Homo sapiens: one gene and its partners. The protein of the gene in region 3 interacts with the protein of the main gene of each other region in a pairwise test. Each region holds a gene or a part of one and is shown on either strand. Other genes may lie near its edges. The genes, in order: KRTAP1-5, KRTAP19-1, PLSCR4 and KRT82.

Region 1 (6,505 bases), on a different chromosome or scaffold from region 3:
CCAGTGTGTGAGTGTGTGTGTGTGTATGTGTGTGTGTATCACATTTTCTTTATCCACTCATTTAATGATGGACATGGACACTTAGGTTGCTTCCATATCTTGGCTATTGTGAGTAATGCTGCAATGAACATGGGAATGCAGATGTCTCTTCAAAATACTGATTTACTTTCCTTCGGGTATATACACAGAAGTGGGATTGCTTGATTATATGACAGTTCTATTTTTAATTTTCTGATGAACCTTCATATTGTTTTCCATAATGGCTGTACTAATTTACATTTCCACCAACAGTGTGCCAGAGTTCTCTTTTCTCCACTTCCTCTCCAACACTTGCTATCTTTTGTCTTTTTGATAATAACTATCTAATATGTGTGAGACGATATCTCATTGTGGTTTCAATTTGCATTATCCGATGATTGGTGATTTTGAAAATTTTTCATATACCTGTTGGCAATTTGTAGATTTTTTTTGAGAAATGTCTATTTAGATTTTTTGCCCATTTTTCAATTACGTTATTTGTTTTCTTACTACAGGTATTGAGTTGTTTGAGTTTCCTCTATACTTTGGATATTAACCCTTTATCAGATATGTGGTTTATAAATATTTTCTCCCATTCAGCGGTTTGCGTCTTCACTCAGTTTAGTGTTTTATTGGCTGTGCAGAAGCTTTTTAGTTTGATGTAATCCCACTTGTCTATTTTTGCTGATGCTTTTGGATTCATGTTCACAATATCACAATATTGGCCAGGCAAAAGTCATGGAGTTTCCTCTGTTTTCTTCTTATAGTTTTATCATTTTGAGTCTTTCTTACATTTCAGTCTTTTAATCCATTCTAAGTTGGTTTTTGTATATAATGTGAGACAATGGTCTAATTTCATTTCTTCTGAATGTGAATGTGGTCAAATGATTTTCAACAAGGGTGACAAGACTATTTACAAATGGTTAAGATGGTTAATGTAAATGGTTCATAAATTTTATGGTATGTATATTTTACCACAATTAAAAATTTGTAACTATAAACATGTGTAGGAGACCCAAACTTTTCTGAAATAGAAGATATATATGTATATATGCTGGTTTATATTTGCAGAAGCAAGGATAAAGGTGTCAAAGAATGTGCACCAAATTCTTAATATTGATTACCTCTAGAGCATTAGTTTTGGAAGAGATGTGTGCATCTTCCAGGAAGGGAAAAGACACTAATTTTTCTTTATATACCTCTGTACTCTTTGACTTGTTACAATGTGTACTCATTACTAGCACATATGTTTAATTTAATAGAGTCAGAAAACAATCTACAAGCAAAAGTCATTAAAGATTTTAGTTAGCAATTTGTACATTCACTATTACTGAAGGCAAGAATATTAGATAGAGCTCTGAGGATCCTATAACTTGCACAAATTGATCATAGAAAGGCATACTTGGTTTGAAAGTTGATACATCAGGTTGTAGTTCATGTTTTGATGACACTAATGTTAGTCTTTCCAAGTCTGGACAAATTGTTTATAAAATCATGATCATAGTTAAGTGACCATTTAAGGAAAAATGATCAGTTAAGATAAATTCTGCCTAAAGGTTATCAAAGGACAACTATGACAAAACGTGCCAGGGCGACACTTGGCTCAAGGCTAGTCTGTCATGTGACTTGCATAAAGAGGCACTTCGGTGCTTGGCTTCCATGATGAGCCTTCACTTCGCCCAGAGGGCAAAGAAGAAACATAATGAGACTTAATTGTACAATGGAAAAAGGCTATTGAAATGCTATTTATAACTTTATAAACACCTCAGGTATTAGCCAGAGACTCACACTGAAATTGACATCAAGAAAAGGTGTTGGGTAAATATGCAGCTCTAGGGAACATATCAAAGGACAGATATAGAAGGTACAGCCCAAACTCAGAAACCTCTCTTAACACAGCTCTCAACCCAACTCCTGACACCATGGCCAGCTGTTCCACCAGTGGGACCTGTGGCTCCAGCTGCTGCCAGCCAAGCTGCTGTGAAACTAGCTGCTGCCAGCCAAGCTGCTGCCAGACCAGCTCCTGCGGAACCGGCTGTGGCATTGGTGGTGGCATTGGCTATGGCCAGGAGGGCAGCGGTGGATCTGTGAGCACCCGTATCAGGTGGTGCCACCCAGATTGCCACGTGGAGGGCACCTGCCTGCCCCCCTGCTACCTGGTAAGCTGCACACCCCCATCCTGCTGCCAGCTGCACCACGCCGAGGCCTCCTGCTGCCGCCCGTCCTACTGTGGACAGTCCTGCTGCCGCCCAGCCTGCTGCTGCCACTGCTGTGAGCCCACCTGCTAAAAGCCAGGTTGCTGATCGCTTAAGAATGAAAGGGGAAGCACAGCAAAATTGTGCTGATTTCTGAAGAACTGTTCGATTTTACTTGGATGCTAAGTACCATGATGTTGTTAAGCTGCTCAGAGATAATGAAACTCCTAGTTAGGACACTGTGGATGTGCCGAATTCACTTACTGAAAGATGTATCAATCAGTGTTCTGGATAGCTTGCGTTGCTTGAGCAGAGGACCAGGATGGAATAGTTCATCATTTCAGTGACATCTCTGCTCCCCCAACTCTCTCTTGATGCTCATGCATCTTCAGACCTGGTTTTTCCTTGAATATCTCTGATTAATCCAAATAAAATGTTTTAATGTGCAAAGCAAACTGAGTTATGTCCTCCTTCTACCTTTAAACATGTCTTCTTGTAGCTGGTATTCAAGAGTGGATTTGCAATTTGATAATAATACCAAGGCATAACCATAAAGTCTAAACCAGAAAGATTAAATACAAAGTAAATTATGCTTGAATCCATCAGCTTAAAAATGCTCCATGAATTAAAGAATTTTTATAGTTCAAATATTTACATGCTCTAATCTATTATGATTAGGTCTAGACCAATAAAGGTTGACCTTTAGCTAAAATGTTAAGGTTGATCAAAGCTATTGATTTCTATCTAAATGTAATTCTACCATCTTTTGTCTCCTTCCATTTAATATACTAAATGTTCTCCTTCATTTATGCCCCAAAATCTAAAGAAATTGCATTACCTTCTAAATAGATTTAAAAATAGCTACTAGATACTACCTATTTTCCAAGAGAATTTAGGTTTAATTTCTACACCTTAGCCTTTCACATTCTTCCCACTGATCCTTGAATTGCTCTCTAAGCTTCAACTCCCACTATTCACCTTCATTTGATGTACGTATGCATAAGGTGTATCTTTGGTCTAAATGATAGTAGAAGAAACAGCTATAGAGAGCACCCGCTGAGTTCTACCATTGCCATTTGTCAGACAGAAGTGTTAGAAATCTGAAACAGCTCGATTATATTTTGCACTTTGCAACCCAACTTAAAAGATATTCTCTTAAGAAGTTAACACGCTGGACACGGTGGCTTACGCCTGTAATCCCAGCACTTTGGGAGGCTGAGATGGGTGGATCACGAGGTCAGGAGATTGAGACCATCCTGACTAATATGGTGAAACCCAGTCTTTACTAAAAATACAAAAAAAAAATTAGTCAGGTGTGGTCGTGGGTGCCTGCAGTCCCAGCTACTTGGGAGGCTGAGGCAGGAGTATGGCGTGAACCTGGGAGGCAGAGCTTGCAGTGAGCCAAGATCACGCCACTGCACTCCAGCCTGGGCAACAAGCAAGACTCTGTCTCAAAAAAAAAAATTAACACAACCTAGAACAAAACAAAACATATTTTACCATTTAATTTTTAAATTCTTCATTAGGCATTAGAGTGTAATACACAAAATACAATAGGATGCAAATATAGAAAGAAACACGTTTTCCACATTATTTACAAGCTCCCAGAACTTACCTCTATATTTAATTGGTAGCAATGATGGATTACACACAAAATTATGCAATTTCCAAGAGGAATAAAGTAGATGGCAGTACATTTTTCAAAGTGTCATAACTCCTAGATATTTTTTCCCGAGCCCGGTTCCACTACTAAATCCAAAAAATAAAATAAAATAAACCAAAAAACACATTTCCTAGTCTCTTTACAGCAAATAACAAGACTCTTTCATGAGAAGTACTACAGCTTGAAAGTTCTCTTTAATCATGTTTGAGTGGTATTGATATCCATGAATCAAGCCTTTTACTCCACCTATTCAATAAACATTTATTGAATCAGATTCAGTAAACATTTATTAAGGTTCTACCACAAACTAAGGACTCTGCTGGATACCTTCCTAAATACTATGTCAGTTTGGTTCCCAAGAACAGATTTCTGGTCTGGAACAGGAATAATAGTCACACATTCCAAATTGGTTGAAATCAAAGGAACTATAATCGGTAATTCAATAAGACATTGGAACAAAAAAAGGTGAAATCTGCGAATTATGTATGACCAAAGGTATTCCTTCAGTTCAGTAGATATCCAGATATCCAAAATTCAATAAAATTTAGTCTATATATCTAGGAGGAAAAAATAATAGTTAAATATAACAGCACAATTATTACTCTTAGCCTTAGAGGTATGGATAGATTGTCACGTGGAATAACTATTATGTAAAATGAGAGCATTCATTTGGACTAAAATGGAAGTACTCTTTGAACATGGGAAACCACAAACATATTCCAAAGAGCAAAGGACTGATATGAGGAGTCCAGAAGAAACTATAAAACAGTAATTTCTAAACTATTGCTCATAATGTGTCACAAGTATTTCAACATAAGCCAATCAGAGATCCACGGAGTAACAAATTTAAACAAAAACAAAGAAAATATGTTAACAATTTTGTAAACAGCAGCTGGTTCAGATATATAAAAGGACCAACGTGGAAGTCACCACCAAACCTCAGAAACTCCTCCAAGCAACCTAACTCTTAACCCAACTTCTGACACCATGACCTGCTGCCAGACCAGCTTCTGTGGATATCCCAGCTTCTCCATCAGTGGGACCTGTGGCTCCAGCTGCTGCCAGCCAAGCTGCTGTGAGACCAGCTGCTGCCAGCCACGCAGCTGCCAGACTAGCTTCTGCGGATTTCCCAGCTTCTCAACCAGTGGGACCTGCAGCTCCAGTTGCTGCCAGCCAAGCTGCTGTGAGACCAGCTGCTGCCAGCCAAGCTGCTGTGAGACCAGCTGCTGCCAGCCAAGCTGCTGCCAGATCAGCTCCTGCGGAACTGGCTGTGGCATTGGTGGTGGCATCAGCTATGGCCAGGAGGGCAGCAGTGGAGCTGTGAGCACCCGTATCAGGTGGTGCCGCCCAGACAGTCGTGTGGAGGGCACCTACCTACCCCCCTGCTGTGTGGTGAGCTGCACGCCCCCATCCTGCTGCCAACTGCACCATGCCCAGGCCTCCTGCTGCCGCCCGTCCTACTGTGGACAGTCCTGCTGCCGCCCAGTCTGCTGCTGTGAGCCCACTTGCTGAAAGCCAGTTTGCTTATTTTCAATTGCCTAGGTCACAGTGTCTCTGAACTGTTCATCCCTTGACCACCTCTGGACCACTAACAAGTTCTCAGACTTTGCATTGCTTGTGATGGAGACTACTAAGTATATGAGCTCACAATTCTATCTGATTCCATTCTACAATGAATACCTTGACCCTTCACTGGGGACACAGAAATGCTACAAAGCCACCTGCTGATCATCAATTTGCTTGGGATATACTATTTCTGATATTTCTGCAGGATTAAAAATTACTGACATGTTGTGGAATTTATCCATGAGAACTATCCACAAGTCTAATGTTTCCATGCTTTATAATCTATTTTATCTTGTTTACCTAAAATTTTTTGCAACATCAAAGACACCAAATTATAGCCAAGTGACATTCCTCAAGTCACCAGAGAGAATGGAAGCTCATCACCCAACATTCAGCTTCTAAGAAGTAGGCTGGACTTTCCACATTTTAACATCTGATCCATCCCTTGGTTTTTGGATCATAATGATCTTGCCTGCTGGATATTTCAGTTATATCTGTGATACAATGTCTTCTGTCATTTCTTAATAAATATTATATACTAGGCAAAGAAACCATTGTCTTTGTTTTCACTTGTACATCACCTGGTTTAACTGCTTATAATTCAAGAATGTCTACTTGAGGCCAAGAGCAGTGGTTCACACCTGTAATCCTAGCATTTTGGGAGGCTGAGGTGAGTGGATTACCTGAGCTCACGAGTTTGAGACCAGCCTGGGCAACATGGTGAAACCCTGTCTCTACTAAAAATACAAAAAAAAAAAAAAAAAATTAGCTGGGCGTGGTAGTGCACACCTGTAGTCCCAGCTACTTGGGAGGCTGAGGAAGGAGAATCGCTTGAACCCAGGAGGCAGAGGTTTCAGTGAGCTAAGATCATGCTACTGCACTCCATTACACTATGCAATAAACTGCAGCAAGCTCTCAAAATGGCAATTTCCTATATATGACACCAAAGAAGACATAAAGTGCATTAAAAAGTTAAGTAATGGTAAAAAGACACATATTTCCAAGTCGAAAGCAAATGTGGGAGCTTTTCTTTTATTGAGGATCATTGGCCATGTAAGGGTAG
Region 2 (6,018 bases), on a different chromosome or scaffold from region 3:
CATTGTGCCACTGGGTTTCAGTGCCGCATTTCAGTGGGAGTTGCCTCAGTCAAATATTGGACAATGGCCTTCAGGGAGATGCTAAATATAGAATGTAGTTCTGAGTAGGAAATGAGTGAAACTTCCCAATCTCCTTGCCGCAACCTCAACTGAAGGGTGGACAAAAAGCAAACACATGCCTGGCCAGAACAGGGGTACCAAGAAGACGTTCAGCTAACAGCAACCAACGTTGCACAGCAGAATATGAGAATGACACTATCCTTAGTGATTCCAGGAACACTTGAGGGACACTTGAGAGGGGCTGACATCCTAAGTAAATAGACAGGCAAGTTATTTTTATCTCTTGTTAATATGATATCTTATTTGTTCTCAAGCTTCCGTTAACACAGTAAACTAGAAACATTTTCATCATATTCCACCATGGAGCCACAGATCTCACTGCCTCATAAGTAAACTTTTTATAGTAGTTGCAAAATAAAATGTTAAATATGACAATGGAAACATTGACAAGAACTAAAATATTTATACTTTACTTCATTTATTAGATAAAAGCAAAATACAAGTTTTTGCTAGGATCTTGATAGATAACATCAAGGTAATGGTGGTAAGAAAAATAAAGCAAATTTAGAAGAACAACCTAGAGTAGTTATACATGAATATGATTTCAGGTGACGGACTCCGAAAGTAAAAAGACAACAAATATTCACAGAAGCAGCTTAAATCTATTTTAAAGATTTAACATAGCTAAATATCTCTCCATTGATGCTGAAGGCAATAGAATGGATTTTTGGAATGAAAGCACGGGACAGGACCAAACACATTTGGAGGTTTCTCCTCTGCTTCCAATTTCAGCAATTCATTTAATAAAAGCCAGAGAATCCGTATCCTCCATTGTACGATGGGCGGCAGCAGCCATATCCATAGCCTCCAAAGCCAGAGCCATATCCGTAGCCTCCAAAGCCAGAGCCATATCCGTAGCTTCCAAAGCCAGAGCCATATCCGTAGCCTCCATAGCCACAGCCAGAACCCCGTCTGCAGAAGCTGCCACATCCACAGCCATAGCCATAGCCCAGGCCACCGAAGCCTCCACAGCTGTAGCCCAGGCCTCCGTAGTAGCTGCCGTAGTGACTCATGGTGTCAGGAGTGGTGAGTTGGTTTGTTGTTCAGGCAAGATCCTGAGTGTGAATGCCAGCATGTATAGGAGGTTTATATACCCTGGTCAGAGCATGTGATAAACATGTGCCCCTCTTTTTGTGTCATTCCATGAATTATACTTGCCTGAGGCAGCTCGTTAATCTATTGTCCCCTGACAACACTCAGTAAGATTGCCTGAGCTTGTTTGGCTACCTAGTTAGGTTGTCCCTGAGCTTGCTGCTTTAATTTTATTAGAAGGGATTGCTGCTTCTTCAAAGTCTAAAACATACCAAACCTTAAATAGAATTCTTTATTACCAGTCACTTAACATCAGTCACATTAAAAATTCTTGAATTTCTATTCAAATATATTCTCATCACTAGCATTTTTGGACGTGGTTATAGTTGATTCCACAAAATTTCAAGAAATAGCCAAGGTCAAGACTCTTACTTTCATCAGTTTCTTCATAAAACACACATATTTTGTAGAGTGAGAAGCAAGAAAGATTTGATTCATCTGTGTATGTACCTGAAAGAAACAAATGTCACCTAATTTGTAGACTTTTAAAACTTTGATCATGCACAATTGTTATATTTATTTTGGGCTTTGCACAACAGCATACAAAATATTTGTTTTGTTTTAAGAACATAGCACAATTGTAGTCATAAGTGGAGAGACTCTTACAGGGATCAAAAGCCCATCTCATCTGGTCTTTCCAGAGTTTTCTATTTATATCTCAAGTCCCTTCTCCATTATATGTTCTAACCTCACTGTTACCAAAAAATGAAGATTATAATCTGCCTTCATACAGAATTGTTTCTCTTTCTCTACCTTTTGTCATTAATTCATCCCTCTTGCATCTTTTGCTGATCTCACTTCAAATTTCACCCAACTTCTTTTCCTCCACAATTCATTACTATAACCAGGTAAAAGTTTGAAGTAGGTAAAATGTTCTGGCTACAACCTATTTACTCAAATCAACATTCATTCTTTCCATTTAGATCTCCATAGTCAATATTTGCCCTTGTCTTTGCCTATTCTGTGCCCATGTTTTTTGTTGTGCTTTGTTTTAACCGCTTTCTAGTTATCTTTTCCTGAGAAATCAACTAGATCTTCTAAGATATTGATTATGGTGTTTCTTGTTTAAAACATTTTTCAACTCTTCAAATTATCTGAAATTTAAAAAAATATTTGTGCAACTTAGATTAACACGAAATTCTCTAAATGTAAGGGACAATTGTGAAAAATATAGAAAAGAAGGAGTAGCTCTGTAGGGAGAGTTGACCAGTGAGTCCCTCAGCTCAGCCCATAGAGTTAGAAATGCCCAAGGCTTACCTCATACCTGATTAAGCCTCATCCAGATGTACCTATATCTTGAAACTTGGAACTCCAGAAAGGTATCAGTTTTATATGACTATAATCATACTACTAAGATTTTTTTGAGATTTATGAGTAACCGAATGACACATTTTAAAATTTTTATTTTATTTAAATTTTTTATTGATACATATTTTACATACTTATTAGATACATATGATATTTAATTGCATGCATAGAATGTATAATGTTCAAGGTAGAGTAATTGAAATATCCATCACTTTAAATATTTATCATTTCTTTATGTTGGGAATAAATCAAGCTCTCTCTTCCAGCTACTTTGAAATATACAGTATATTGTTGTTAACTATAGTCACTCTGCAATAGAACTTATACCTTTCATCCAACTTTTATCTCTCCTGCACCCACACACCCATTCCAGCATCTGATATCTATCACTCTTTTCTCTACATTCATAAGATTAACTTTTTTATCTCCCACTTATGAGTGAGAACATGTGATACCTCTCTTTGTGTGCCTGTTTATTTCCCTAAACATAATGACTTTCTGTTCAAGTCACACTTTTTTTTTTTTTACAATGCGGTGTTTCTCTGACCTGCTGAGTGTCAAAACAAAGTCTCATATTTAGTTGGCATTCAAAAATATTATTTGAATGAAGCATATGACTTTGACATCAATGCAAGGGCCATGAATAGCATAACATGAGCAACTTACTGGCTATTCTGGGAGATGTTGTAAGGCTGAACGCAAGTTCCAACAAGATTCCTGCTGTCAGAGTAGCATTTAACCCAACAATAGCCTTCCTCTTTGATGTCTGTGTTACTGTAACCCAATTTCATTCCATTTTTATTCTCCATTTCAGAAAATCAGTCAAGTGATACAATTCATATATACATTTCTAATGAAACACTTAGAATTATGAATAAATTACATAGCATTAAGAATTTCACATTTTCTTGTGTAGCTCTGTCAGAGCATGTGACCATGATTAAAGGCTATTTTGTTTGTTTTTGATACATAAAACTGTCTCTATATGGAAATAATATGAGACACAAATGCGAAACTTCTATAGTACAATAAACACTAAATGTATTTTCAAAGAATAAAACATATGACTATGACATGCATAGCTTATTTTGTCCACTAGCCGTGTAAACTAGAAAAAAAATTTGAAGAATATGTAAAAAATCTGATTTATTTTCTGTATATGCAAGTGAAAAAAGTCTCTGAAATTTCCTTTGAGGGGTTATTCTTTTTCTATCCATTTATTGGATCAAAAGTAGATTTGGATCATTATTGCTTTTTAAGAACTGTTAGCTCATGACCCTATTTTCTACTCATGTTGATAGGTGGAAGAGTGAAAAATGTTCTCACATTTTTCCTGGAAGTAAGGAAATTTTTGTTATAAATTTTCTATCATCTCAGAAATTATTCAATACAACCTTAAACAGCATGAAATTATAAGATTGATTATAGTAATAACAATAGCAGTAACAATTATATTGATTACTGCTTTTCAGCCCCATGGAAACTATCCCTGGGACATTATCCAAATGAGAAGAAAATGCTTCTAGTGAAATCCTATTCTACTGGGTCAGACAATATTGCTGACCTCCCATAGAGTTACTTTGCTGTATTTCCCCTGTTCAGCCCATTGTTGTAGTACACAGAATGCCCTGAGAGCATTGACTCAAAGAAGAGGTCATGGCGCTTTGTTTTGTTTTTTAACTTAGAGTCTGATTTTAACATTGCTCATTGGTTAGTTACAATCAGAAGTAGATAAACTAAAATTTGATTGGTTTAATTCTGTATATCGCAACAATAAAAATGAAACATCAATGTTAATGTAAGAAAAAGGGCCAACCTTCATAAAAGCAGTTGAGATAATTTAGCTTTTCTTACAACTATGACCAGAACTTTCAGAATGGTTATCTGACAACAATCAAGAAGAAAATGCATAAAAGGTGAGTCTGCAAAGTATAGTCTAAAACCTGGGACTCAGGATGGCATGATTCTGATCCTAGTCTTGGCACCAATTATGACAAAAATAACATATTCTGAATTTCTGTGCCTCCAAAATTGGAATACAGCGTTGCAGAATTGTAATGCCTCTTTCTGCTCCTTGTGTGATTTAATTTTTGTCCTCATTTTATTACATTTGGCGAGCTTGTACAAAACATCTGTAGGCACATATCATTGCCTGAAATTCTGTTTTATAAAAACAATATTGTTTTGGCCATTTCTTGAAAGGATGAGGTTTCACTGAAATTTATCTTCATATGTATATATATATGTGTGTGTGTATATATATATATATGTATAGAGAGAGAGAGAGAGAGAAGTATGTATACATAATGATATTGATATAAGACATATAGAAATATATAAAATGATATTTGTATAAAATATATACATTATATACAATATATACTATATATGTATGTATTATATATTTTATATATAATATATAATAAATAAATTAATATTTCATTAATATTTAAACATATACTTCTATATATTAATAAATATAAATAACAAATTATCAATAATCATATTGAAATATAAATAAAATAATATTTATTATTCATAATACATATAAATATAAAAATATATTTATTTATATTTAATATATAAATTTATGTAATATTTAAATATATACTCCTATATATTTAAATGTAATATTTAAATATATACTCCTATATATTTAAATGTAATATTTAAATATATACTTCTATATATTTAAATATACATACTTCTATATATTTAAATATTAAATGACACTTTTAGTCAGTTGAAACTACAGAATATTTTGCCTCATAATAATGTTTCTGTGTGTTTATAGTCCCTACTGCATTACAAATCCTTCAGTATAATGATGATAATAAAGAACACAATATTCCTATAAAAAGACAAGTGAAATGAGTTGAATGACTACAATTCACATTTTATTATCCAGTTTATCAAGGACTTTTAGGTCAGGCTTGTTGTACATGCATAACAAACTAGATGAAAGCAGAAAATTATGAATAAAAGAAGATTATAGATAATGCAAAGATTCATAGAAAAAGAGAGTTCACTTCTCTTTAAGTTTTAGGGATATAGATTATAAGATTTGTGAGAAGAAAGTTTGTTTTTATTACAGTTTTAATGATATGAATGTTGTGATGCTTAATTTTAAGTGTCAATTTGACTCTGTTAAGGGATGCTGGGATAGTTGGTAAACTATTTCTGGGTTGTCTGTGAGGGTTTTTCCAGAAGGATTCATATTTTAATCTGTAGACTGAGTAAAGATCACTCTTACCAGTGTATGTGAGCATCATTTAATCTGTTGAAGACCTAAATAGAACTAAATGGGGAAGGCAAAGGGAGTTTGCTCTCTGAGCTGGGATCTTCATCCTCTCCTATCCTCACACATCAGCATTCCTGGTTAGAGCATTTGGTCTCAGATTGAAACTTAACATCATTGACTCCCCTGTTCTCTAACTTTTGGGTTTGGACTGGAAGTACTAGACCAGCTTTCCTGGGCCTCTAACTTGCAAACAGAAG
Region 3 (7,047 bases):
AAGAACAGCAGTGAAGAATTTTGCTTGAGGGATTTCACAACCAGTTAACTTTTATAAACAAAAAATACAGCAATGTTCATACTCATATGTTCACCAGCATTGTGCTAAAATTCATTTTTATAGTACTCATTCTTCAGGATGAAAGAGATAGATATGCTAGTCCTTAAAAAGAAAAACATCTAAAGTTGGAAAAAAATTGTTTTTAATTGCATGGTAAGGCTGGGTGGCGGTAGCTCACGCCCGTTATCACAGTACTTTGAGAGGCAGGGGTGGGCAGATTGTTTTAGCCCAGGAGTTTGAGAGCAGCCTGGGAAACATGGCGATACCCCACCTCTAAAAAAATTTAAAAATTAGCCAGGCATGGTGGCACCCACCTGTAGTGCCAGCTGCTCAGGAGGCTGAGGTAGGACAATTGATTGAGCCTGGGAGGTCAAGGCTGCAGTGAGCCATTATCATGCCACTGCACTCCAGCATGGGCAACAGAAAGAGACCCTGCCTCAAAAATAAAACTGCATGACAAAAATGCAGTGAAGACAAATGATAAGTTTTGAAAAGATAATTTTAATATAAAATTTTAATACCTTTCATATAAAGAAGACAAATGAAAAGCTAACAAAAATGAACAAATGACAAACAGGCAGTTCACAGAAATAGAGTTGCAAATTGCTTTCAAACAAATAATAAAAGTGGCTCAGCCTCCTCATTATGAGATATATGGAAAATAAAACCAATTTTTTTTTTTTATATATCAGATTGACTACTACAAAAATGTTGATAAAATACTGTATTAGGAATGTAACTTTTTGTCTGGGGTCTAAATTGATTCAAATTCTTTAGAGTGCAGTTTGATAGTATCTTTAAAAATGTACAAAACTTTGATCCATCAGTTCTGCTTCCAATAATTTAATGCACAGATCCACAGGAAGAAAATATTTTTTTCAGCATTTTTGGTAATAGCCTAAATTTGGAAACGATTTAACTTGTTGTCATTAGGCAGCCAGTTAAATACATTATGTTGCAGCCATTAAAAAGAATGAGGTTATATGGACTGAAATGTAATTAACATCAAGACATTTTAATAAATGAAAAGAAAAAGACACAGAAAAGTATATAGATGATTGCCATTTTATAAAAACTGTGTGTATTAGTTTATATATGCTTAGAAAATCTATTGGAGGAAAAAAAATCTAATGTCTGTGGTTGCCTTTTCAAATGGGAAATGGGAATTGGAGTAGGTGGGATTTTTTTGTATAAATGTATTGTGTAAATGTATGCACTGCCGACTCCTTGAATTATATTTGTGTTTGTTTGCACATAACATCTGTTTTTTAAAAGTCTGTTTTCATAAATGTAAAGTTTCTTATCAAAGTGACTTAACTGTATGCAACATGACATCTTGTTTTACTACAATTTTAAATACTAAAAGACTAGCTGTAAAATGACACAATGAGGCGTTCTTGGTAATCATAGTTGGCATGGTAATGTTTCCTTAATGTCTTATATAAACATCATGAGAATATTGTTCTGATATTTTTCTACTCTAAATAACAAAAACATTTCCCTTTTGAAAGCTAAAAAGGAGACACCTGATATTCTCTTTAAACAATTTGAACTAAATTAATATATTTAATAAAGGTTATGTATGGACTGTGGCTATCAATTTGCTTTCATTTAATCTTATCTTTTATTTTATATTAAAGCCAAATAGCTAACCTCCAAGATCCTTCACACTTGCTAAAAAGAATGAAATATTCTACCATACACTTTTTCTTTTGAAGGAGTCATGATGTTAATAAAATAATAAATATATTGATATAGGTTATAAAAACAACACAATAAAAATCTTAGGTTTTGCCCTTGTAATTTGTTGAACATTAATCACTCCCTAAGTTTCTTCTAGAATTGATTTTATGCAAAGATACAATTAAATACATATATGTTAACATGTAATTATAATGAAGATACTGTGTATCTATGGGACATTCCTGCTGCAGCATATTTTATCAACATGGACCTAGGTTTATCTTTTGTGCAAGCCTGGAATTCGTTTCTCTAATTTCAGCCCATGTGACAGAAACTTACTAAGTTTACAAGATGTCTACAGAAATGACTGAATCCTTCAGTCATTGGACTTTAATCCACTCATATTGAGCCCACTGAACTATCCAGTTCCCTATAGCCAAGAAACCCATAAAAGTAATTAACACAGTCCACCATAGGAGCCAAGAAATTTGGCTTAAAGTCTATAAAGAGGATTGTACTTGGAAAGGTGTGCATAATATTTCCTCTTTGATGAACATGCAGGTCTTTTTAGTTACAGATTCACTACAAGAGAGTACATTGTCAGGTTTTAAAAATTATTTTAAAAACTCAGTTTATATAATTTATTATACATTTATTGTAGAAAATTTAAAGAGGAAATGTTTATATCTTAGCATGTTTCCTCCAGTTTCCATATTTTTTAAAAACATTGCTATCATTATAATTATCCAGATTATATGTTTAACATTTGAATGTAAACATTTAATGATTTTTACAAAACTGTTACTATATTTTTAAAGGAAAATTATTTTATCATAATGTTTCATGATAATGTGTTTACTTAACAATTGTGCTTGATATTTATGTAGTTTACAATCACTACTATTTTCGTTTTGCATTCCTTCTGTGAAAATGAGAATGTATCACTTAAAAATATTATATGGCATATTTTGGATTTATTTTGAATTTGGTATAGAGGAAATTTACTTGGGTTTACAAATGAGATTTGAGAAAAAATAGATATGTCTTATATTGGTAAACTGAACATTTGATTGAATGTATTATGATTCCTACAGCAGATAGGTTTTTATCTGAATGGGGTAAAATTTCATAGATCTGTAACTGAGGGGGTGTGTGTTGGGGCCAGGAGGGGATATATTAAAATCATCTGGGAAATGGCTTCCATTTTCTTTCCTTATCCATAGAAGCAATGATCCTTTTAAGCTTTATCATGAGACTGCAACAATTCGGTAACATCTTCATGCTTCACTTCTAACTCTTAGTTCTCTTGCTATTCTCTCACATCTGCAGGTACTTCATCCAATGAAGTCTTGAACCACGCAAAATCATCCAGGAGGGTTGGAATCAACTTCTTCCAAGCTCCTGTTAATATTTATATTTTGACTTCCTCCCATGAATAACAAAAGTTCTTAGTGGTATCTAAAATGGTGAATCCTTTTTAGAAAGTTTTCAATTTACGTTGCCTAGATTCATCAGAGGAATCTAGGCCTAGCTTTTGGCCTGTCTTTGCTTTCAGCATGCCTTCCTCATTAAGCTTAATCTTTTCCAGCTTTTTGACTTAAAGTGAGAGATGCACGAACCTTCTTTTCACTTGAATATTTAGAGGCATTTGTAGGCTTATTAATTGGCCTAATTTCAATATTGTTTTGTCTCAGGGAATAGGGAGGTCCTAGAATAAGGGGAGAGATGGGAGAATAGTTGCTCTGTGGAGCAGTCACAACAACACTTACTAAGTTCACCATCTTATATAGGCATGGTTCATGGGGTCCCAAAACAATTATAATAGTAACATCAAAGATCACTGATCATAGATCACCATAACAGATTGTTATGAAAAAGTCTGAAATATTGTGAGAATTACCAAAATTTGACAAAGAGACAAACTGAGAAGTTGCTGTTCTGCAAAATGGCACTGATAGACTCCTTGATACAAGGATGCCACAAACCCTCAATTTGTTTAAAAAAATGGAGTATCTGTGAATCACAGTATAGCAAAGCACAGTAAAACAAGGCATGCATGTACATAATGAGGTATCTTGAGAATGGGACCCAAGTAAACATGAAATTCATGTTCCATTATGTTTTAAACATATAGCCTGAAGATAATTTTATACAATATTTTTGATAATGTTGTGTATGAAACGTTTACGTACGTTGAACCATCAGAAAGCAAAGGTATCAGTATCTCAATCACCCATGTGGACAATCTGTGGTTATTTGACGTCACCATCATTCCTGACTCTAAATTCATTATGCTACTGATAAGTAATCATTTTCTTACATTACTCACAAATAAGTGCTTAACAGTAAAAAATAGGATGTATCATTAGTACAGTGAAAAGAGAATGCGTTCAGGGTAACTAAGCAGCACAGTAGTATCTCCAGAATGCCTGTGTCGGAAAGCCACCAATAAGCAATGGCAGGCTTTCATTCTTTACCTACAATGCTGTATTTTGATTACAAGGTTATCATTCACTGAATTTTATTATTTTAAGTGAGAAGAAATATCAGAAGTAGCCAAGTGACCAGCAAGTGTTTTCTCTACAAATGAGGAAGCATTCTGATGGATGACTTTTCAGAATGTTTCCTCTGGAGTCCGCTGTCTCATTAACAATGGTTTTTGTCTTAGAAGTCTCTGTTGATTTTACAGACTGACACAATTTCTTATTCTGTGATGAATGAATGCTCTTAGAGTCCTTCAGTAAACCCATCACATATTTTCACCATGTCATCTATAGGCACTTTGCAGTTTTAACAGTGTCCTCATCATCTTTCACTTGTGACATCATGTTGGTGCTGAAAGTTTTGGATTTTTGAGCATTTCAGATTTTGGACTTTTGGATTAGGGTTGCTTAGTCTATACAGCATTTTATGTGCCCGAACTCTGCATGAATATTATAATCTTTTCTTAAAGTTAGAGATTGGTTCATCCTTTTTGTTCATTTCTTTGTTTTCAAGAATAAATGACAACACAGTTTTTGTTTTGCTTTCTATTTTTTTGTTTTTCAAGAGTTTTGGAGCATAGTCAGGATCATGATGATAAGAAAGAGATGTATATATGTAACAAACCTGCATGTTGTGCACATGTACCCTAAAACTTAAAGTATAATAAAAAAAAAGATGTATACAGTTGGTAGAGCATATTGTTAGCAGGAGTTTGAGAAGAGGGGTTTCAGTCAATTGAGAGATCCCCATGGAAGAAGCAGGATGAAATACAGATAACAGAACTAATTCTTACAAATTTTTTTTCTGAAAATGGTCCAAGTGTCAATTAGGAACTTTCCAGGTTTGATTTGAAACCCCCACCACAGAATTTGTTTTTCCTCCCTGAGAGATTGATGGGTTACTGTTTTGGGATTAAAGCCTTTGGGGGCTTTCTCTGGTGGAGAAATAGTTCAGACAAAAGGTAGTGGATCCATTAGATGGCTAATATAAAAGTGGACAATGTATTTTCCAGTTGCATGAGTGTTTACCATAAAGGCAGACATCTTGGGGCATAGGGTTCTTTATTTTGGGATCCTCTTGGGCCCTGTAGCCTTTACAACTGTAAAGACATAAACCTGTTTGCCTTTCGTAAGGAATTTTCCCACTGTAGCCATTCTAAGTTACTTTTGCTAAGGTTCTCCCATTCGTCTCGAAAAGCACAGGTTCTGGGTCTCTGGTTTTTATACATGAAGTTGGCTAGAATTCCAGAGGGCGAAGCTCTAGCAACCTTTGACCAGATAAACCCATGATTCTATGTCTTTTATTAACCTTTCCTACCTACTAACTGAGTTGAGTTTATGTCTGACCCAGTCAAATACCTGAGGCCTCCCTACTGGGCCCAGTCCTGTTGTTGGCATGACTTTGAAACCCAGTGTAGATCAAAAATGCTCAAACTCAGCTCAAATCAGAAGTTCATGAAGCTTAGATTCAAAAATCTCACCCATGACCCCAGTTGCTGCGAAAGAGCAGTGAGTACACTGGGCATGCTGGGTACCTTAACTTGGTCACTCAGTGCTCCTGGGATCACTGGAAGTTTGCTTCAAGATCTGACTTCTCATGTGAAACTCTTAAAAGAAAAACTTTAGGCAAATTCAGCAGAGTTTATCTGAGCGAAAAACGATTCATGAATCAGGCAGCCCTCAGAACCAGAAGAGTTTCAGAGAGCTCCACCGAGCAACATGGGCAGGCAGTATTCATAAACAGAGGAAAGAAGTGACGTACATAAATCAGTTGATTGGATCCAGCCTGGTATTTGCTTTATTTGGTCATGGTGTGATGAGGCATTTGCCTTCAACGGACATGGTCTGATCAGTTGACAGCCCGTGATTGGCTGAAGCTCCACTACCATCATTGGCTGAGACTCAGCTACTTGTTACAAGAATACAACCTCAAATCAAGTTGCAGTCTGCTATTTACAGAGGCAGCTTTAGGCCCAATTTAATTTATCAGGTTATGATTTAGATTACGTAGAAATGTGTTGTTTTATTTTTATGTGGTTAGAGAATTTCCTGTTATCTTGCGGTTAGTAATTCCTAGCTCATTACATTATGGTCGGAGAACAAGCTGTATTATTTTAATTTTTTTGTAATATTTTAAGATTTGTTTTATGAGCCAGAATGTGGTCTGTCTGGGTGAATGTTCCGTACGTTGAAAATAATGGTTATTCTAATGCTGTTGGGTGGGTGTCCTACAAATGTCAGTGTTGGTTGATGATGCTGTCTAGTTGTGCCAATATCATTGCTGATTTTTCCTCTGCTTGTTCTTGTAGATTACTAAGAATGGAGTGTAAAAGTCCTCAACTGTAACTGTGGATTTCTCTTTATTTTTTTCAATTTTGCCAGTTTTTCCTTCATGTATTTTGAAGCTCCATTGTTAGGATCAGTCATGCTTAGGATTGCTGTATCTTGTTAAGAAATTGTCTCTTACTTTTAAGTGATAGCCCTTCTTATCTCTGGTAATTTTCTTTGCTCTGAAATCTACTTGTGAGATATTAGTATAACCACTCCAGCTTTCTTTTTCTCTGTAATGACTTTGTTGAGACATAATTCACATACCATAAAATTCACCCATTCAAAGTGTACAGTTGAGTGATTTTTAGTATATTCAGAGTTGTGAAGCTATCACCACAATCTAATGTTAGAATAATTTCATAATTCCAAAAAGAAACCCATGCCCAATAACAGTCATTTCCCATCTTCTTGAAGCCACAAATCTACTTTATGCCTTTATAAACTTGCCTATTCTGGATAGTTCACATCAGTAGAATCATGTACTATATGG
Region 4 (2,952 bases), on a different chromosome or scaffold from region 3:
TGGAGGAACCAGATGTCGCAATCCTAGGATGAAGCTCGCAAATGTGAGCCTGGCACGTAGCCACCCCCGTGTTCTCTCTGCTCTTCTGCGAGTCTGGCTTGGGGCTCCAGGGCCCCCAGTGATGCTTTTCTGCGCCCCTCCCACAGCGCTGCAAACTTGAGGGTGCCATAGCTGAGGCAGAGCAGCAGGGCGAGGCGGCTCTCAATGATGCCAAGTGCAAGCTGGCAGGGCTGGAGGAGGCTCTGCAGAAGGCCAAGCAGGACATGGCCTGCCTGCTCAAGGAATATCAGGAGGTGATGAACTCCAAGCTGGGCCTGGACATCGAGATCGCCACCTACAGGCGCCTGCTGGAGGGTGAAGAGCACAGGTGAGCTCCTCCAGGAGGGGGTCAAAGATGGGCTACCAGGTATGGCCATTACCCAGCCCTCTGGTGGCGGCTGCTAGTATCTCTCACCCCGTCCCCTACCCACATTCATTGAAAACCCACAGCAGCACATGGTCCACAATGAGGGCGGGAGCGGGGAGATGCTGCATTTACCTGCATCTGTTTGATGTAGATACCTGTTTTCTTTTTCCTCTCATCCCCAGGCTGTGCGAAGGCATCGGGCCCGTGAATATCTGTAAGTAGATGAGCCATGCCCCACTGGCTCTGGAGTCTTGGGGGTTGATCACCCCAACACAGGCAGCCCACACCACCCCTTCCTAGACCTCTGATGCCTCCCCTACCCCAAAGGAAGAGCTCTGTCTGCCGTGAGCTCCCAGGCTGGTGGAAAGGGCTATCCAAATCTTTTGGGAGTCAGACTAGGAGCAGATTTGCAACAACATGGTCCAAGTGCTTCAGGGCCCAGAAGCCACAAATAACCACCCTGACAAGAGGATGCTCTTCTAGAGGAAGAGGATTTGAAGCAAGCTTAGGAAGGAGGGACCAGTAGAAACTGAGAAATGGTGAAGCTGAATCCAGCCTGGCCTTGCCCAGGCTCTAGGGAAAGGAGAGAGGTGCATGGGGACCTTGCAAGCACTTTATGTGGCTAGGGTGGGAGACGCGGAGGCTGGAGGCTGGAATGGGGTGTCTGTAGAGGTGAGTGGCAGGAGGTGGGAGGAATGGCCTGGCTGAGTAGTTTCAGGGCAGTACACTGAGAGCCACACCGTGTGGGGCCCTGAGCACCCCTTCCTGTTCCCACAGCAGTGAGCAGCTCCAAAGGCGCCTTCCTGTACGAGCCATGTGGGGTCAGCACGCCTGTCCTCAGCACTGGCGTCCTCAGGAGCAATGGGGGCTGCAGCATCGTGGGCACTGGTGAACTCTATGTCCCCTGCGAGCCCCAGGGGCTACTGAGCTGTGGGAGCGGGCGGAAATCCAGCATGACGCTAGGAGCTGGGGGCAGCTCCCCCAGCCACAAGCATTAGCATGATCCGAGACATCCAGGAGACAGAGCCCCTGCCCCATGGCCCTGGATGTCACACTCCCACCAGGGCTGAAGACAAGGATGTTCCAAAACCCCACCTCCCTTTATTGACTCCACATTCCCCTCCAGTGTTCCCTCCTTGAGAGCTGAGCTGCCCCTAGGACCCCTCCTTTGCCTCATGAGTCACCTTCCACTCACCTGTGTGCAGACCCTCAGCTAGGCCCAGATGGTGGGGACAGACGGCAGAGAAAGAGCATGCATTGCTCTTAACCGCAGAATGGCAATAACCCCCAAAAGGTCAAATGGGCACACCACAGTTCTGCTCTGTGGATCATCCCATGGAAGTTTCCTCACAAAGTCAGCTCCTCTCCCACCACAGGCTCACACTGCCCTTACTTTAGGCTCTCATGCCCCTAAGAAAAGTGAATTTCCTTTAACACCGCCTGAAACATGCACACTGCAAATATCAAAAGGAGACACCCCCAAATCCCACTCTAAATTCCAAAGCCAAGTGCCACGATTTCAGGATCAGTCAGGACCTGCCAATGTCCTCTCAGCACAGAGAATCAAGAGGTGGCCTTTGGGCAGTAGATTTACTTTCTCAGGTATGTTGAACCCAAACTGTGAGAATAAATCTTTCTCCTGAGCTCACATTGGCAGGTGATGTCAGGCCAATGCCTAGAACAAAGGGCAAAGGGATATGGAATGTTTACTGGACAGTTGGAAAACCAAAAACAGATACCATTTTCTCAATGGAATCAGTTCCCCCTCCACCCATCCCCTTCTGTACATAGCCGCCCCTTCCTGTTCCCCAACCCTTTAGCTCCTTTTGCTTTGAGTCTGATATGACAGTGATGTGGGGCTGCCCCAGCTGACTTGGAGGCCCTGGCTCAGGAGCTCATAGATGGAGGAGGTGTGGGCTGACTACCTCCCAGAAGCCCCTCATGCCAAGCCTGTCCCACTGGGGCTCCAGGGCCTCTGCCCTGAACATCTGGGCTTCTGTTCAAAATAAACCTACTCTGTTCATGGATTATAGCAATCAGGATTATTTACTCTGCTCTGTGGAAAGTGTGATAAGGCTGAGGGGGAACTGGTGAGCAGCTTTTTGGGACTGGAGTCTTCGGAACAGAAATGAAGACTATTATACAAACAGAAACACTACATGTAAATAATTTGCAAATTGCCTGTGGAAGAAATAGGGCTCTATACAAATCACACTTAAAACCTGCACGTCACACCCCAATGGTTTGCAAGTCACTTGCCATGTTAAAAGCCACAAGCCCATTGCACACAGGCCTCCTCACTACATGGTGTCCTATACACATCCTAGAGAAAATCCTTGGGGTCCTCTATTGTGTCTAGACTTAGCAGCCCCCAAGCCCTAGGCTCTGTCCCTATCCCGAACCATTCTCAGTGCCTGGATACCCCCAGCTCCAGGAAAGCAGTGAAGATGGTGGCAGCCCATGGAGTGAGGAGGACCAGGACACTCCAGTCTCCTCTCCCCATTTAGAGAGCCCAAGACCTGGAGATTTGGCGGCGGTGCTTCCAC

What was found.
Region 1: the proteins of PLSCR4 (region 3) and KRTAP1-5 interact in binary tests that used the Homo sapiens proteins (3 or more experiments, as listed by UniProt).
Region 2: the proteins of PLSCR4 (region 3) and KRTAP19-1 interact in binary tests that used the Homo sapiens proteins (3 or more experiments, as listed by UniProt).
Region 4: the proteins of PLSCR4 (region 3) and KRT82 interact in binary tests that used the Homo sapiens proteins (3 or more experiments, as listed by UniProt).

Annotation. Positions count from the first base shown.
Region 1 is NC_000017.11:41,025,514-41,032,018, reverse strand, and holds KRTAP1-5 (keratin-associated protein 1-5), read left to right. Parts: upstream 1-4,810; 5' UTR 4,811-4,863; coding exon 4,864-5,388; 3' UTR 5,389-5,993; downstream 5,994-6,505. Other genes in the region: KRTAP1-4 (keratin-associated protein 1-4), read left to right, coding at 1,941-2,306. UniProt on the Homo sapiens protein: In the hair cortex, hair keratin intermediate filaments are embedded in an interfilamentous matrix, consisting of hair keratin-associated proteins (KRTAP), which are essential for the formation of a rigid and resistant hair shaft through their extensive disulfide bond cross-linking with abundant cysteine residues of hair keratins.
Region 2 is NC_000021.9:30,479,185-30,485,202, forward strand, and holds KRTAP19-1 (keratin-associated protein 19-1), read right to left. Parts: upstream 1,184-6,018; 5' UTR 1,134-1,183; coding exon 861-1,133; 3' UTR 522-860; downstream 1-521. UniProt on the Homo sapiens protein: In the hair cortex, hair keratin intermediate filaments are embedded in an interfilamentous matrix, consisting of hair keratin-associated proteins (KRTAP), which are essential for the formation of a rigid and resistant hair shaft through their extensive disulfide bond cross-linking with abundant cysteine residues of hair keratins.
Region 3 is NC_000003.12:146,241,093-146,248,139, reverse strand, and holds part of PLSCR4 (phospholipid scramblase 4), read left to right. Parts: intron 1-7,047. UniProt on the Homo sapiens protein: Catalyzes metal ion-induced ATP-independent rapid bidirectional and non-specific movement of phospholipids (lipid scrambling or lipid flip-flop) between the inner and outer leaflet of the plasma membrane and participates in the redistribution of phospholipids between membrane leaflets.
Region 4 is NC_000012.12:52,393,427-52,396,378, reverse strand, and holds the end of KRT82 (keratin, type II cuticular Hb2), read left to right. Parts: intron 1-146; coding exon 147-367; intron 368-588; coding exon 589-620; intron 621-1,183; coding exon 1,184-1,404; 3' UTR 1,405-2,448; downstream 2,449-2,952.